Regions from separate parts of the Homo sapiens genome. Here region 2 is linked to region 1. Evidence: fine-mapped expression QTL. Tissue or cell type: whole blood. Region 1 holds a variant in brackets; the other region holds the start of a gene. All regions are shown on one strand. Distances are from middle to middle.

Evidence for each region. PIP is the estimated chance that this variant, and not a neighbour inherited with it, causes the effect.
Region 2: it holds the start of PNRC2, and the variant in region 1 is fine-mapped to the expression of PNRC2 in whole blood (INTERVAL, PIP above 0.99).

What each region holds. Positions count from the first base shown.
Region 1 is chr1:23,979,153-23,987,332 of GRCh38, reverse strand. SRSF10 (serine and arginine rich splicing factor 10) reads left to right here and starts at 7,006. Exons shown (of 6, transcript NM_054016.4): 1 at 7,006-7,142. The coding sequence starts at 7,078. RefSeq lists enhancers at 6,682-6,731, 5,798-6,788, 6,742-7,071, 7,502-7,551, 6,789-7,779. The variant AC/C (reference allele first, on the strand shown) is at 3,398.
Region 2 is chr1:23,956,415-23,964,594 of GRCh38, reverse strand. PNRC2 (proline rich nuclear receptor coactivator 2) reads right to left here and starts at 4,767. Exons shown (of 3, transcript NM_017761.4): 1 at 4,597-4,767; 2 at 3,461-3,666; 3 at 1,133-3,155. The coding sequence starts at 3,137. The coding sequence ends at 2,718. It overlaps SRSF10 (serine and arginine rich splicing factor 10), which reads left to right. Exons shown (of 6, transcript NM_054016.4): 6 at 1-248. LOC124903877 (a long non-coding RNA gene) reads left to right here and starts at 6,481. Exons shown (of 4, transcript XR_007065541.1): 1 at 6,481-6,493; 2 at 8,077-8,079. RefSeq lists enhancers at 4,501-4,770, 5,671-5,730, 5,909-6,537 and silencers at 4,971-5,080, 5,491-5,590.

The DNA.
Region 1 (8,180 bases):
CCCTGGTAGGGAGGTGGCGGGTCAGCCCCCGCCTGGCCAGCCGCCCCGTCCGGGAGGCAGGTGGGGGTTCAGCCCCCGCCCGGCCAGCCGCCCCTTCCGGGAGGGAGGTGGGGGTTCAGCCCCCACCCGGCCAGCCGCCCCGTCCGGGAGGGAGGTGGGGGTCAGCCCCCACCCGGCCAGCCGCCCCGTCCGAGAGGGAGGTGGGGGGCGCCTCTGCCCGGCCGCCCCTTCTGGGAAGTGAGGAGCCCCTCTGCCCGGCCACCACCCCGTCTGGGAGGTGTACCCAACAGCTCATTGAGAACGGGCCATGATGACGATGGCGGTTTTGTGGAATAGAAAAGGGGGAAAGGTGGGGAAAAGATAGAGAAATCAGATTGTTACTGTGTCTGTGTAGAAAGAAGTAGACATGGGAGACTTCATTTTGTTCTGTACTGGGAGGGGTTCTTCTGCCTTGGGATGCTGTTGATCTGTGACCTTGCCCCCAGCCCTGTGCTCTCTGGGGCATGTGCGGTGTCCACTCAGGGTTAAATGGATTAAGGGCGGTGCAAGATGTGCTTTGTTAAATAGATGCTTGAAGGCAGCATGCTCGTTAAGAGTCATCATCACTCCCTAATCTCAAGTACCCAGGGACACAAACACTGTGGAAGGCCGCAGGGTCCTCTGCCTAGGAAAACCAGAGATCTTTGTTCACTTGTTTATCTGCTGACCTTCCCTCCACTATTGTCCTATGACCCTGCCAAATCCCCCTCTGTGAGAAACACCCAAGAATGATCAATAAAAAAAAAAAAAGAAAAGAAATAGCTAAACAAGCCAATAAAATATAAAGCTAGGATAACTAATCCATTTGAATAAGACAGCATAGAGCATCCAGAAATGACCCAAATACATAAAGTGGCATTTCAAATCAATGGAGAAGGGAGGGTGTCATAGTTCGCGCCTGTCATCCCAACACTTTGAGGCAAAGGTGGGAAAATTGCTTGAGGTCAGGAGTTTGAAACCCGTCTCTACAAAAATTTAAAAAATTAGCTAGGCATGATGGCACATGCCTGCAGTCCTACCTGTTAATACTTGGGAGGCTGAGGTAGGAGAATTACTTGAGCCCAGGAGCTTGAGGGTGTAGTGCACTATGATCGCACCACTGCACTCCAGCCTGGGTGATGGAGTGAGATCCTGACTCTAAAAAATAAAAAGGGGCAATGGTAGGTTATCCAGAATTGTATTGTAGTATAGGGTAGCCCACTGGAAAAAATAAATTCAAATCCCTATCTCACAAGTTTCATTGAAAGAGATTTCACACAAGCAAAGATTTAAATGTAATAAATAAATGAACCTATAAAACTATTACAAAACAAACAAACAAACAAAAAAAAGAAACTGGTCCCTGGTGCCAAAAAGGTTGGAGACTACTGGTATACAGGGCCAATTATTGACCAAAACCTTGTTATGAAGCCCATGATTGTATTTATTCAGTTCTTTCCCATGCCCTTTGTTACATGATACCAATTGTTACATGTTAGCCTAGATAACCAGGCTACAAAGAACAGTAAGCCTTGAGAATTCTATAAAGTCTTAAGGTAAAGGTTCTTACCTTTTCTCAGCCCCTACACGCACTCCTTGGTAAATCAGAGCTCCCTGATCTACTTTTCCAGGGAGATGTCATGTAGCATTTAAGAGTCAGACTCTAGGTCGGGCGTGGTGGCTCACACCTGTAATCCTAGCACTTTGGGAGGCCAAGGTGGGCAGATCGCTTCAAGTCAGGAGTTCGAGACCAGCCGGGCCAACATGGTGAAACTTCGTCTCTATTTAAAGTACAAAAATTAGCTGGGCATGGTGGCAGGCGCCTGTAATCCCAGCTACTCAAGAGGCTGAGGGAGGAGAATCCAGGAGGCGGAGTTTGCAGGGAACTGAGATCACGCCACTGCACTCCAGTCTGGGTGACAAGAGCAAAACTCCTTCTCAAAATAATAATAATAATCGAAGTTTTAATAGCAATTAGTTCTGAGTGGTAGGATAACAGGTGATTTTTGTTTCCTTTATATTTTTCATCTCCAAAGTTTTAACATGTATAACTAGGAAAAGTGTTATTTTAAGGCATTAAGCCAGAAGTAGTGTCTCACACCTGTAATCTCAACACTTTGGGAGGCCTCGGTGGGAGGACAGCTTGAGCCCAGGAGTTCAAGATGGGCCTGGGTAATGTAGTGAGACTCCATCTCTACAAAAAATTAGAAAAAAAAAATTAGTGGGGCGTGGTGGCTTGCGTCTCAGTCTCAGCTACTTGGGAGGCTGAGGTGGGATGATCTCTTGAGCCTGGGAGGTCAAGGCTGCAATAAGTCATGACTCTGCCACTGCATTCCAGGCTGGGCAACAGAGCGAGACCCTGTCTCAAAAAAATAAAAATTAAAAAAATAATGTGGTGAAAAAATATGTCCATTAGCCATGAATTCTCCCACAGAGCAAAATTAGTCAGAGCAGGGGTTGAAAGGTGAGCCTGCACATAGATATTAATAAATTGATAAATGTGTACATATGTATGTGCCCAAAAGTTTCCAACTCACAAGTAAAGGAATGTTTAAATGAGAACACTGAGTTCTCGCAGTCTGAAGAACTTGGCTTGCTGCCCACTCACTAGAGTGAGGCAGCTTATAGGAAATACCAGGCATGTCTTATCAAACAAATTAAATGAACATGCTTCTAATTGATTGTTTGCTCATGGAGACAGAGACACAACACCAAGCACTGTCTGTGGCAGTTGTCTGAATTAAGCAATTGTACCAATAAAATTAATGTTGTATTGACTCAAGGCTTTGGTTCTGCCTATGGAGTCAGGCTCAGAATTCCACTGACTTAACACACAGTATTTGTCCCTGTGAGTCTCCTTCCAGCAAGCAGAATGGCTCAATGAGTGTGCCATTACCCACAAATCAAGGAAGAACTATTTCAGGATCAAGGAAATTCAGTTATATTGTTTACATTTGGGTTTTATTTGTGCAGTTCTGAGAACAGTACCAAGGAAAGTGGTTTTCTAACATAAATCTCAATAAAACATAGTGTCTTCAAGAAGAGGTGCAGCACCCAACAGATCATTTTCAGAAATTAACATTTGGAGGCCAAGTGCAGGGGCTCACACCTGTAATCCCAGCAATTTGGGAGGCTGACGCAGGATGATTGCTTGAGCCCAGGAGTTCGAGACCAGCCTGAGCAATATAGTAAAACTCGTCTCTACAAAAACCTTACAGAATTAGCCAAGCATGGTGGCACGAACCTGTAGTCCCAGCTACTAGGGAGGCTGAGGTGGGAGGATCATTTGAGCCTGGGAGGTGGAGGTTGCAGTGAGCTGTGATCGCACCACTATACTCCAGACAGAGCAAGACTGTCTCAAAAAAAAAAAAAAAAAAAA[AC/C]AAGGAAAGAAAGAAAAGAAGAAAGAGGCCGGGCACGGTGGCTCATGCTTGTAATGCCAGCACTTCGGGAGGCTGAGACGTGTGGATCATGAGGTCAGGAGTTTGAGACCAGCCTGGCCAACATGGTGAAACCCCATCTCTACTAAAAATACAAAAACTTAGCCAGGTGAGGTGGCGGGCATCTGTAATCCCAGCTACTTGGGAGGCTGAGGCAGAAGAATCGCTTGAACCCGGGAGGCAGAGGTTGCAGTGAGCCGAGATCCTACCACTGCACTCCAGCCTGGGCGACAGAGCAAGACTCCATCTCTAAAAAAAGGGAAAGAAGGAAAATAAAGAAAGAGAGAGAGAGAACTTATCATTTGGGTCTTCAGAAAAATTACCGGCCCTGGTGTTATACTCAGAATTAAATACAGTGCTCTTAGCACACTGGGCAGCACTTCCGGGATGCGATGTTGCGCTTCCAAAATCCCTTAGTGTATCTTCCCTTGTCCCTGTCCCCCAACCCCCAGCAGATTTGTAGTTTGGTAAATTACCCAGCTCAAGCCCTATCTCTGGCAGAAAGGAGTTCACTCTCTCTCTCTACTTTTCCCAGCATCATCTTTTTCTAGGTTCTGGGATCCTACAGCAGAAAACATCAAAGGGCACTTTGTGGGCTGGGCACAATGGCTCACGCCTGTAATCCCAGCACTTTGGAAGGCCGAGGTGGGTGAATTATTTAAGGTCAGGAGTTCGAGACTAGCTTGGCCAACATGGTGAAACCCCACCTCTACTAAAAATACAAAAATTAGCCGGGCGTGGTGGCACATGCCTGTAATTCCAGCTACTGGGGAGGCTGAGGCAGGAGAATCACTGGAACCCGGGAGGAAGAGGTTGCAGCGAGCTGAGACTGCACCACTACATTCAAGCCTGGGCGACAGAGCGAGACTCCATCTCAAAAAAAAAAAAAAAAAAAGGGACACTTTGAGTGTGAGGCGGAAAGCAATTCTGGTGAGTAAATATATGTCCCTCAGTTGCCTGTATTATTTCTCAAGGCATTATGAATAATAATAATTGCTGGCATTCAGGGCCAGCTTCTTGAGCGTGCTACTTGTGCACTGGAATGGGCCCCATGCTCAGAAGGACCCTGCACTTGGCTTAGTACTCTGCGATTGTCGTTTTGAATTTCTTAATAAATATTGAATGAAGGGCCTTGCATTTTCATGTTGTACTGGGCCCCTGTGATCCTGTTAACATTTTAGGGCACTTTCTATGCATCAGACTCCATTCTAAATCTTCACCCTATTAAACATGAGTGGCTGGAGTAGCACCAGACAGTGTAAATTTCCTCCATTACTTAAGGTAATTTGCAGGACTCTGTTTTCTTGCCACTGAAAGTATTTAACTGAGAGGGGCAGGGGAGACACTTGCTCAGCAAGGCCTTCCTAGGCAAACCTGTTTTAAAAATTAAAAACAAGGCCGGGGGCACAGTGGCTCACACCTGTAATTTCAGCACTTTGGAAGGCCAAGGCAGGCGGATCAATTAGGTCAGGAGTTTGAGACCAGCCTGGCCAACATGGTGAAAACCCATCTCTACTGAAAACAGAAAAATTAGCCAGGCATGGTGGCAGGAGCCTGTAGTCCCAGCTACTCGGGAGGCTGACGTAGGTGAATCGCTTGAACCCAGGAGGCGGAGGCTGCAGTAAGCCAAGATCCAGCCACTGCATTCACGCCTGGTCAACAGAGCAAGACTACATCTCAAAAAATAAAATAAAATAAAAATAAGTAAAAATCAAAAACAAGAAAAAACCTATCACATTACTGTTTCTTTCATATAACAAACCTGCATTTACTTTATTTTCTCATTGCCATCGCCCTAGAAATATAAGCTGTATGTTTTTCATTACTGAATTTCAAGCTTCTAGCACAATGTCTGACACATAACAGGGAATCAAACTTTTTTTTGTTTTGTTTTGTTTTTCACATCACCCTCCCAAAATGCTGGGATTTTGGGGCCACCTTGCCTGGCCCAACATTTTAATAAATTAAGCATGCAAATCTTGGGAAACAAAAATTTAGAATAGCTCTGCTACAGAGTGCTACAAACTATCATCACCTGTATCGAATCACTTAATTGTCTTAGATGCTGATTGACACAAAAATAATGCCTTTATGACTTTTTATTAAATAAAAGTTCATTTAATTTAACAGTACTTGAGTCCCTGCTACCTGCTTGGCACTGTGCCACACGCTGGAGGCATTCCAACTGAAGTCTCTCATCTCCAGAAGTTGACTCTTATCGAGCAGGAAATGGCTCTCAAAAGGGCCTCCAAAATCAAAACCATACTAAAGATTATTTGCTATTTTCATGCTCATTCTCTTACAAACGTGGAGTTTTCCAGAGGGTACATGATGTGTGATAAAGGGTAGTGGAGTGTGTCAAAGTTTTCTCTATTTTTTTTTTTTTTCTTTTTTGAGACGGAGTCTCACCCTGTCGCCCAGGCTGGAATGCAGTGGTGCAATCTCGGCTCACTGCAACCTCTGCCTCCCGAGTTCAAGCGATTCTTCTGCCCCAGCCTCCCAAGTAGCTGGGATTACAGGCGCGCGCCACTACGCCTGGCTAATTTTTGTATTTTTAGTAGAGATGGGGTTTCACTGTGTTGGTCAGGCTGGTCTCAAACTCTTGACCTCGTGATCTGCCCGCCTCGGCCTCCCAAAGTACAGGGAGGGATTACAGGCGTGAGCCACCGAGCCCAGCCGAAGTTTCCTCTATTTTAAGTTCTCATTAACTATTTATTAATAGGTATAACCCACACTTTTTTTAAAAAAAGCTCTTTGGAATCTTCCGTAATACACAAGAATATAAAGGCGTTCTGAGACCAAAAAGTTTGAGAACTGCTGCAATACAGGTCCGATGCATACCCAGGAAGCCGTCAGCAACAAAGAATACACTACAAATGACCACAGTCATGAACCTACAGTGTGAGGTTTGGTCCCACCCAGGTTGGGAGCCAAATGCGTGACTAAGTGGAGATGGCTAGGGTGTGGGTGAGGGGCAAAGGCAGGCTGAAAACACTGGAGAGACAGGCCCAGCTCTGCGCAAGGGCACACACCTCCTTCCTTTACACACTCAATACAAGCTGTAAATCCTTCTTTCGCAGGTCAGGGCATAACCTGGACCAAACGGGAAATTTAAGGCAAAATAAAAGCAGGACATTAACTTGGACCAACCGGGAAATTTAAGGCAGCCTCTCTGAACTAAATAGTTTAAAAATCTGTCCATTTAGTAGTAACCGCAAAGTTTGGCCTAGAGACTAAAACATCTGCTTCCTGATTTGGGGGTGGAGATGAAGTGGAGTGTAAGGTAGAAAACGGCGGGAAATGAAGACCTAAAGAAAGAAAGAACAGGCTTGGGGGAGGGTAAGAGGCACCGCAAGAAGCCAACGAATGACACCGACGCTGAGGCGCGTGCGCCAGCCCTCCGCATGCGCAGGCGGACGCCTGGTGTTCTCGCGGGAAAGAACCGTTGCGCCCGACTTTGCGCGGAGGTAGGAGGGGGAAGTGGAGGCGGGAGTGAAGTCTCGCGAGAAGAGTCGGTTGCCGTAGCAGAGCCCTCTAGCTGTGTGTGTCTGAGGCTCGGCCGCCTGAGCCGCGGACGGTTTGCTGAGCCCGTTAGTGCGCCCGGCCGAGACACGCCGCCGCCATGTCCCGCTACCTGCGTCCCCCCAACACGTCTCTGTTCGTCAGGAACGTGGCCGACGACACCAGGTAGGTACAAGGCAGGTACTCCGGGCCTAGGCGGGGAGGCCGCAGGCGCCTGGAGAGGACCCTGGTGGTGGCGGCACTGGGCCGGGGGAGGGGACGGAGTGAAGATGGCGGGTCCCGCGCCCGCTTTGGCGCCGAACTAGGCCGCGCAGCGGGCCTCAGCCGCCGCGTGGGAGCGAGGGCGGCGCCTCTGCCTTCGCCGGGCCGCGTGGCGGGGTTTTTCGGTCCCCCTCCCCCTCCGCAGTTTGCAGCCCCTTTCTCCCTGCTTCCTGCCGGCGCGAGCAGCCCCCCGCCGCGGCCTTTCCGCGACCCGACGGCCGCCCCCCATTGATTTGAAGTTCACATTCTTCGAGGTTCACGCCCCCTTGGCCCAGAGATTTTTTTTTTTCCCCAGCCAAAAAATAGTGAGATGAAATAACGGGATCGAGGGAGAGGAATGTTGCTACCATTTATCTTTGTTGTTGTTGCCGTTGTTAATATTTGGGGGTTTTAATCAGTTGGAGGTGTTTGGAGAAAGGGAGCGTTGAGATTTGGGGAGTTAGATTTTTCCAGTTAAATGTTGCGAGTAGTTTTTCTTATTTCCTGGAAATTCTGGTCACCCTTTGAAAAGGGAGGTTTGGGAAGCGTCAGTCATTAGGACGTTGACAGCTAAGTTAGATTAATTCAGACGTACCTTAAATAGGCTTTGTTCTCACCATTCCCTTGTTTCGAGTTGCCTTCAGATTATTTTGGAAGAGTTCTTACTACAAGATGAGGCTTTTTATTTCACAAATAATGAATCTACACACAGAAAATAAGTGGTTTGGGTTTTTGGTGTTTCGTGGGGGTTTTTTGCTAGCTTTGTGATTTGCTTTTGTCTTAAATTTAAGAAGGAAAGAAAGCAATAATTCTTTCCATAAATAATTCTTTCCATAATTTCTAATAGTTACGTTAGCATCTAGAGAAATTTTCTCTTTACGTCATCTTGACACTTAACTATTTAAGAAGTTCGATATTTGTGACTTTTTCAGACCATATTTATCTACTGTTAAGTGTGTAAAT
Region 2 (8,180 bases), 23 kb after region 1:
TATTAGTATTTATTTTAAGCTTAAGGATAGGTTTTGGACCTGGATTCCATCATAGTATAACTGCCATCGAAAAGAAGACAAATTGAAATTACAGCATTTACCTAAGGTTCACAGTATGGCTGACTTCAGCAGCCTTACATGGTAAGTTCTCTGTACCAGCTATTTTTGGTTCTCGCAATTGCATCGACTTGGGAAATTCCTATCACCATTCTCTATATAGGCTAACCAAAACTTTTATCAGTACCTTTCCTAAAGTATGAAGTTAGGTAATCTTCCACTCCCACTTCCATTTACTCATTTTGCTTGAGTCAAACCAAAAATCTAGTGTATTACTAGATTAGTCACTAAAAATCTAGTGTATTCAATATATACACTAGATTCAATATATAGCTTAAAAACTAACAGACACCTAGGCTGAGATTTGTCCAATACATGAAGTTCAATTCTGCAATCCTTGGCATTGTTCACAGAAATTACCCTGGAAACAAAATGAACACCCAAATGCTGGTTCTGCCTTAACTCCAAATTGTTAACTAGTTTGCATGAAAATAATACAGCTTTGCCATGGGACTAGTTGTAGCATTTTAAGGATTACTCAAACTAGTTTTAAGATGCCCTATCATTTGGAATCTGTATCAGAAAGGTGTGGTTGTGATGCTTTTCTTCTGAGGGGTCCCCTTATATACTTTTCATTTGTCAACATACTTAAAACACAAGGGTTCTTGTCAACTTGATAAATTTGCTTATAATTTTTTTTCTATGAACCTAGATCATGGAATTAACTTTCAAAAGCTTTGCGATGTTTTCCATGTGTGGCCTTTTTTTTGCTTTTTAATTAACACTACTGGGAGAGAGAAATCCTAAGTAGTTGCTTAACTGCATAGCTGTCAAATCCTAGTATCTTCTGTATCAGTCAGCAAACTAGTTGCCCCTTTTCAAGCCAACAGTCCTATCACATTTTAGTTGTGACCTTTTTTATATATACGTATATATATATGATCAGAAATGTAGTGGTTCATAGTTCTGGAGTCTGAGAAATCCAAGAGTTTGGAATATTGTGAGTGTATTATGAGCTTCAAGTCAGTGACAAGTAAAACACATTTTTAAAAAGAATATTAAGCAATCAAAACCATTTTTAAAATAAAACCAAGCCAATGGGGAAAAATTTTATTTAATTTTATGCTTCACATTCATATCATGTACATTAAGTACTACATAAACTTGTCTTTAGGCTATCAATATTTAACTTGGGCAGTACTTCATCTTGATTTATTTGGAGAAATACAGCTTAGGCATCTGCTTACCTGCTTAGGCATCAAGAGGTGCCAAATTAGAAAATAGGGCATTAACAATCAAAATTTTTAAGCTGACCCACATACTTGCTACTGGTTTCGCTTATGTTTAAGCATTTAAAGTTGGCAAAACATGTTATCAATGTATTATGCAAGAGTTTACATCTTTTGCATAAGTGGTCCATTGGGTTGCACCTACCCCTTGACCAAACAAAAACAAAACATCACTGGCACCATACTCGAAACTACCTGTATCCTAGGTTATAAGATTGTGAAAGCCAACAATCTATAAGGTTGGAGGGACTCTAGTTAATCTTTGGGCTTAGAGGAGGAAAAAAAGATAGTCCCATACTGCATTTCACATCTCTTAAAAATAGTTTTAGCAGCTTAAACCTTTTTAGTTATAAAACTTATTACACTAGGGTTTACTTTGAAATATAGTTTACAACCAAATCAAGTATAACATACATACACTGGCACTTTAGCACAAGGGCAAACTTTAAAAACAAGTTATTTTGGACCTTTAAAATTAGGCCATATTATAAAAAACAGTCCACGGTCTTACATTCAGCAAATTCATACTAAAATACTCCATTTTTGTAAGATAAAGGCCAAGAAAACTTTACATATGCTACAAGTTTATTACAGATATTTACATGGCTCTTTCTCCCCTAGGTACTTAAAATTTTCACATTATCCAACTCCCCAAAGCAAGCTTTGCAGGAATGATGAGGCCAGAGCACTATTAGAATAGCTTGTGCAGTGCTGTAATACAAAAATGTATTTTGAAAGCTATTGAGTGACCATTAAATACTGTTTCTATAAAAAATGGTTTTGGTGTATTTGTTGACAGACACTTAATCCACTACATTTAATAAACAGGGCCATTGGGGTGTACTATGTCTCATTCTAATGAGCTCCAAATGCCCTTTCCACCCACTGTACAATTCACTAAAATGCAATTATTACGAAAAATTCACATTTTCTTTCAGCAGTGCATCAGGTTAGCATATTACTGGTTTGGGTGTTTCTAATATACTAAACCTTCAGATGTTTACCTAATTCTGAATCCTTGTGTTAGCTAGAAGCTTATAATCCGATTCACCAACTTTCAACAATCTACTGGTCCATGAATGATAAATTACTGTCTTCCCCTAACAATAGAAAAAGCTGATTCCTTTACCACTCCCCAAATCTAAACTTGGTTTCCACTTAAAAGTTACTCAGTTGAGAACACTTAATATCAAGTACAATCATTAGTTTAAGTTGCACTGATACTACCATTATATCACAGTGCACACAACACGAGATGGTCTATTTTTTTTACATTAATTAGTTCTACACAAATAGATTCCCTAGCGAATTTGTTTCAGACCAATTGACAACTATCCGTGAACATAACTAAATTTAAACATTTGTCTTATTTTATACCTGTACTTTAAGTAAGGTTTTAAGTTGAAATGTCATTATTTCCTTATCTGAAGGATTAAAGGAAACAGGGACCCAGTGGCTTGGTGGTTTGGGAAGAACACTTGGTGATGGCGGCTCACTAAATTTGGCACCAGCATAGTTCTGATTAGCTTGAGATTTAAAAAGTAACCTGGGACCTGATAAGCTAGAATTCCAACTTTGATTATTTGGAAAATTTTTGTTCTTCCCCCCATTTTGCATGGCCTGCCAGGCAGCTGCTGATGAGTTATAACCATGTCCTCTTTCTTTTTTCTTATGAACAATCTTCATCTGGGAATTCTGTTCCTTGGTCTTCTGTCTGTTAAGCTGTTGTTGGTTCTTACTAACATTTCTAGATTGAGGGGCTGGAATGTTATACCTCTCTCCACCACCCATCTTCAGCTTCTTTGTCACCTACAAGTGAATGGAAACAAATATTGAGTAAAATTCCATTAAGAAAAGTTCAAAATCTTTAAGAAGCTTCTATGGCTCCAACTTATAACTCCAGATATTTTGGACAAGACTCAATAACAGGCTATTCAGCTGCTTTAAACTCAAAAAAGCAAGCCGTTCAGACTTCAATATATGCACAACCTTTATTGTTATACCTTCCCTAAGAAAAATGAGCTTACCCACAAATCTACATAATCTATTTTAAAATAAAAACAATTGGTTTAGGATGGTTCCATCATAAAATGTTTGCCCATTATGATGATTACCTTTCAGTCTGCTTTTCAGATTGCAGGATCTCCACTACCTGTCCTCTTCCTTGCTGCCAAGCCCAAGATAACAAGTGTTGCTTTCTGACAGATCCCTTCCTTTGTCTCAATACAGAAGTTTTCATGGGCCGATCTGCTGAGTTCAGCCTAGGAGCTGAGGCCAACATCTGAGTCTCCTCAGCACACAAGTTTGAGAGAAGTCCTAGCTAGAAAAGTAAAGATTACTTCATTATTTCAAAAACACGTTGAGAAAGTGATCATTTAGATTTACTACGAAAATCGTTGACTGTAAAGAAGGCTACTTCCTGAACTAAAAGGTAGAAAATTTCTCGTAAGATGGCTTTCTTTGACCTTATAACCACGACCATTTAAAAAAACTCTTCACCCTTGAGATCCAGTCACTCCTGGGGAATTTTTGTAAGTGTCTCCAAGTCCCGCAATAAGTTTTATCTTTATCTTTTTCCTGGGAAAGACCTTCAGATTCTCTCGCGTATAAAATCAAGGAAGTGTTAAATGTTGAGTCATATCAAAAAATTGGCTTCAGGCGGATTTTCTAAAGAGACCGTGTTTTTAAACTCCCACCAGAATTTTCCAATCTTTCCACACATGTCACATCCATTTTCAGTCTCTTGGAACATGTAGACATCACGCAGTGTTTCCTTTGGTTATGAACGCTCTCGCCTCCTCCCCGTCTTAAAATAAGTTCTCACAAGCCCTAACAGTCTAAGCCCATCTTAAATATATAAAAATGTCTCCCTAGAGGGAACAGCTTAACTTTCAAGGTTTGGTTTTAATTTGATGTTCCAAGAAAATAAGTTACCAAATAGTTAAGCCCCCTCCTTTCAAAGGGGTAAGAGAGCTTTCCAAACAGATAAACAACCCTAAATAAATTGCCATTTCCGGACTGTGAGTAATTCCCAACTCGAACCCGGAAAACGCCTCCTCCGACGCCACAAGGGCTTGGCTTCCCAGTGGCCCCATCTCTCCGGAGCCGCAGGGGTCGCGGCGCTGCGACCGCCCGTGACCGCCCGCGCCCGCCCGGGTTACCCGGATCTCGCCTCCGCTCGCCTCCTTCCTCCAACAATGGGGAGCGCGGCCACCAACATGGCCGCGCCCTTAGCGCAGCCGCTACTTACTGACTTCAAGCTCGGAACTAACGCGGCAGCGGCTCCCTCTCGACGTCGAAGCCTCCCTCCCTTTCCAGGGAGAGACGAGGCACGGACCGACAAAGCCCACGAACACCGATGAGCGAGCTGCCGGCCACCCCAGCTTCTACAACCCGACCTTCTCCTTCTGCCTCTACCGACAAAATGGAGTCGGCAGCGACTGCAGAAGCAGGGCCGGGAGGCTCCGCGGCCAATCAAAACACGACAGCGCGGGCCTGGCCAATGAGAAGCGGGCCGCCGCCTGTTGCTGGGGCTGGCCGGGGGCGAAGGCGCGGAGGTGGGGCTGCAGAGGGTTTGAAATCTGCCCGGGGAGGAGGAGCATGCCGGGAGTAACTGCTCGGTCCACCGGTGTCTTAGTCCTTTCTCCGGCGGCCTCTCCGCGCCCCTGGCCCGCCGAGGCCCCGGCCGCTAGCTCTCGGCTCTTCCTACCGCTCGGCTCTCGTGCGCGCGGGCTCGCCGCCCTTGGGACTGCCCTGGGGGAAAAGACTGACCGGCGGGGGACGTTTGGTTCTCGAATTAGGGCCACTGAGTCCTGTAGCCTGTATTGACAGATGGAAGATACTCCGGAAAGCCTCTTGCCAGGGCGCAGCCCCCTCCCGCCTCGGGCCTCGGCTTCTGGGTCGCCTCTCTCCCACACCCACAACTCCGCGTCCGAAGCCGGCGCCTCCCCGCGGTTCCCTCCAGTGCCCCCACCCTCCAGCCCCGCAATTACTCAAAAGTTGCCTCCCTGTGAAGGCGGTTCAGACACACGCGGGCAAGTCAGTCACTTCCTGCTTGGTGGCCCCATTGGTCCTTAAGTTCAATTAGAGCCCTTTACGCGCCGTGTTACCGTTTCCTGTGGCTGCAGCTCTCCCCACCCACACACCCTCGAGGGCCACAACCGGTTAGGTTTTGTTTCTCTGAGCACAGCGCCTTCGCGCGTTGTAAGTGCACAGTAAGTTTGCTGAAAGAATGAGGACTGCTCTCCTCCCCTTTCTGCCCCACTTGTAAGTGAAAAAGGGGAAGAAAGAGAATATTGTTCAGTTGATTATGCCAGCCAGATGCAGGTAAGGGGAAAATGGCAATTTCTTTGGAGTAAATGTATAAGTAACCCAATGTGAATCTTTTAAAAGAGCACTAATTTCAATGAGCGTGAATAATTCTGGGCCAAACGGTACAAAATCAGTCTCATTCACAGTTTGTTCGTGTATACACATATATACCCAAGTTTACGTTACAGAATTTATATTTACCAACTTTTTATAAATCTCATGTAATTCGTTATTTTTGAGACGGAGTCTCCTTCTGTCGCCCAGGCTGGAGTGCAGTGGCACAATCTCGGCTCACTGCAACCTCCGCCTCCTGGGCTCAAGCGATTCTCCTGCCTCAGCCTCCTGAGTAGTTGGGATTACAGGCGCCTGCCACCACACCCTCCTAATTTTTGTATTTTTAGTAGAGACAGGATTTCATCATGTTGGCCAGGCTGGTCTCAAACTCCTAACCTCACGTGATCCGCCCGTCTCAGCCACTCAAAGTGCTGGGATTACAGGCGTGAGCCACCACACCCGGCCTGTATTTCGTTTTTTAATCTTCAATTTTTTGCCACCGTTATCCCCCACTTCCCAATCCAACCCAAATTCCTATATTCTAGCCATTGGATCTTAAGAAAAGTTACTGCATCTTACGGGATGCAGTTTGTTAATCTAATTTGATAAAAGAGGTATTTTTGAGCATAGGGACTTTCTGATGCTAATCATATTCAAATAAGAAGTATGTGGTAAACCAACAGGTGTCTTAGTGAAAGTGTAATCTGTTTTCCAAACATTCAAGAAGTTTGCTTAGACGTCTAGCCAGATAATAGCCAGCTGTATTTAATGAATTTTTAATGGTGTCACTTTAAAAAACAAAAAACAAACAAAAAAACACTTCCGTGGCTCCAAATTGTGATACGGAATAAAATCTAAACTCTAAACGTTTAGAAAATTATTCAAAGCCATTGCAGTCTAGAGTTAGTCTTTTCATGGCAGGGCATGGCTCACACCTGTAATCTCAGCAATTTGGGAGGCCGAGGCAGGAGGATCACTTGAGCGCGGGAGTTTGAGACCAGCCTGGGCAACATGGCAAAACCCCATCTCTACAAATAACAATTAGCTGGGCATGGTGGCACACGCCTGTAGTCCCAGCTACCTGAGAGACTAAGGTGGGAGAATCACCCGAGCCCAGGAAGTAGAGGCTGCAGTGAGCTGCGATCACAACACTGCACTCCTGGGTGAGAGTAAGACACTGTCTCAAAAAAAAAAAAAAAAAATTCATCTCTTCAGCCACTCTGAATTTTATCTGCATAAACGCACACATAACATTGGAAATGTATAAACCCACACAGAGTATCCTTACTCTGCCCCCTACCCTGTGCTAAATTTTTTTTTCTTACATCATTTCATTTAATCCTCACAATAATGTTGTGAGGTAGGAGCTGTTTTCATCCGCACTGTACAGATGAAGGCTCAGACGGTTTCGAGTTGAAAGCCAGGTACTAGGATTCAAGAGGCCAGGCTGCAGGTTGCCTGCAGCATCTGTGCTCTCCAGCACCTAAAAGGTTTTTTGCTCAGAGCAGACACTGACTGTTGACTGGGCTGCCGGGGCTGTTCGGGCAACAAGAAGCCTCCATCCTACCATCTGGCAGAACCAGTTTCTTTGCCAGAAGGTCAGAGTCGAGATGCCCTTGGGGAAAGCACTGTTAAAGCTTTTACTGCGTCCCAGACTCCCAGCACCCTCTCAGGCTAGCTCCAGCCTCATCATTCATTAGTATTTACCAAGTGCCCGCAACAGCTCAGAACTAGAGAGGAGAAGTTAAAATAATACCTTTTTTGGGACATCTGATACAGCCTCTGCCAGAACCATATGGTCTTTAAACTCAGCTCCACCAGCACAATCCTATTAGCAGTTCTCAATTCAAATAGGAAAATGTTGATGCCGACAAACAGCTCTCAGGATACAGCTCACCTAAACTGGAAGCCAAATGCATAATAAATACATGGATGTTTAATACAAAATATTTAGCAAAGATTTATCTGGTGCCTACTTTGTGCCAGGCACTATGCCACGCTCTGGGGATACAGCAGTGAAGGAGGCTCCATCCTGGCCCTAAAGGAACCCAAAAGCTGTTTCCTTTACAATTTACCAGAGAGGGAAACTAGTGTCTGGGAAGATTTATTCCCTCCCTTCTTCCCCTGAGAGTCAAGGACAGGCAAGGCCAAAATCAGCCTGCTAACCTCACTCAGGAGGTGCAGGTAACAAACATTGTTACTGGACCCTGCAAATAAAGTAGAAAAGGAGGGGGACTCTCACAACTTGCTGAAATTTTTTCACTGGAGGATCTGTTTTGAGCTATGTATCAGTGGCAACCAAAATCAATGAAATCATTAGGAAAACATTATCTACCTAATCTGTAAGTAGAGGTGGAGCAAAAAGCAAGTGTTTCTGGGCCGGGCACAGTGGCTCACGCCTGTAGTCCCAACACTTTGGGAGGCCGAGGTGGGCAGATCACGTGAGGTCAGGAGTTCGAGACCAGCCTG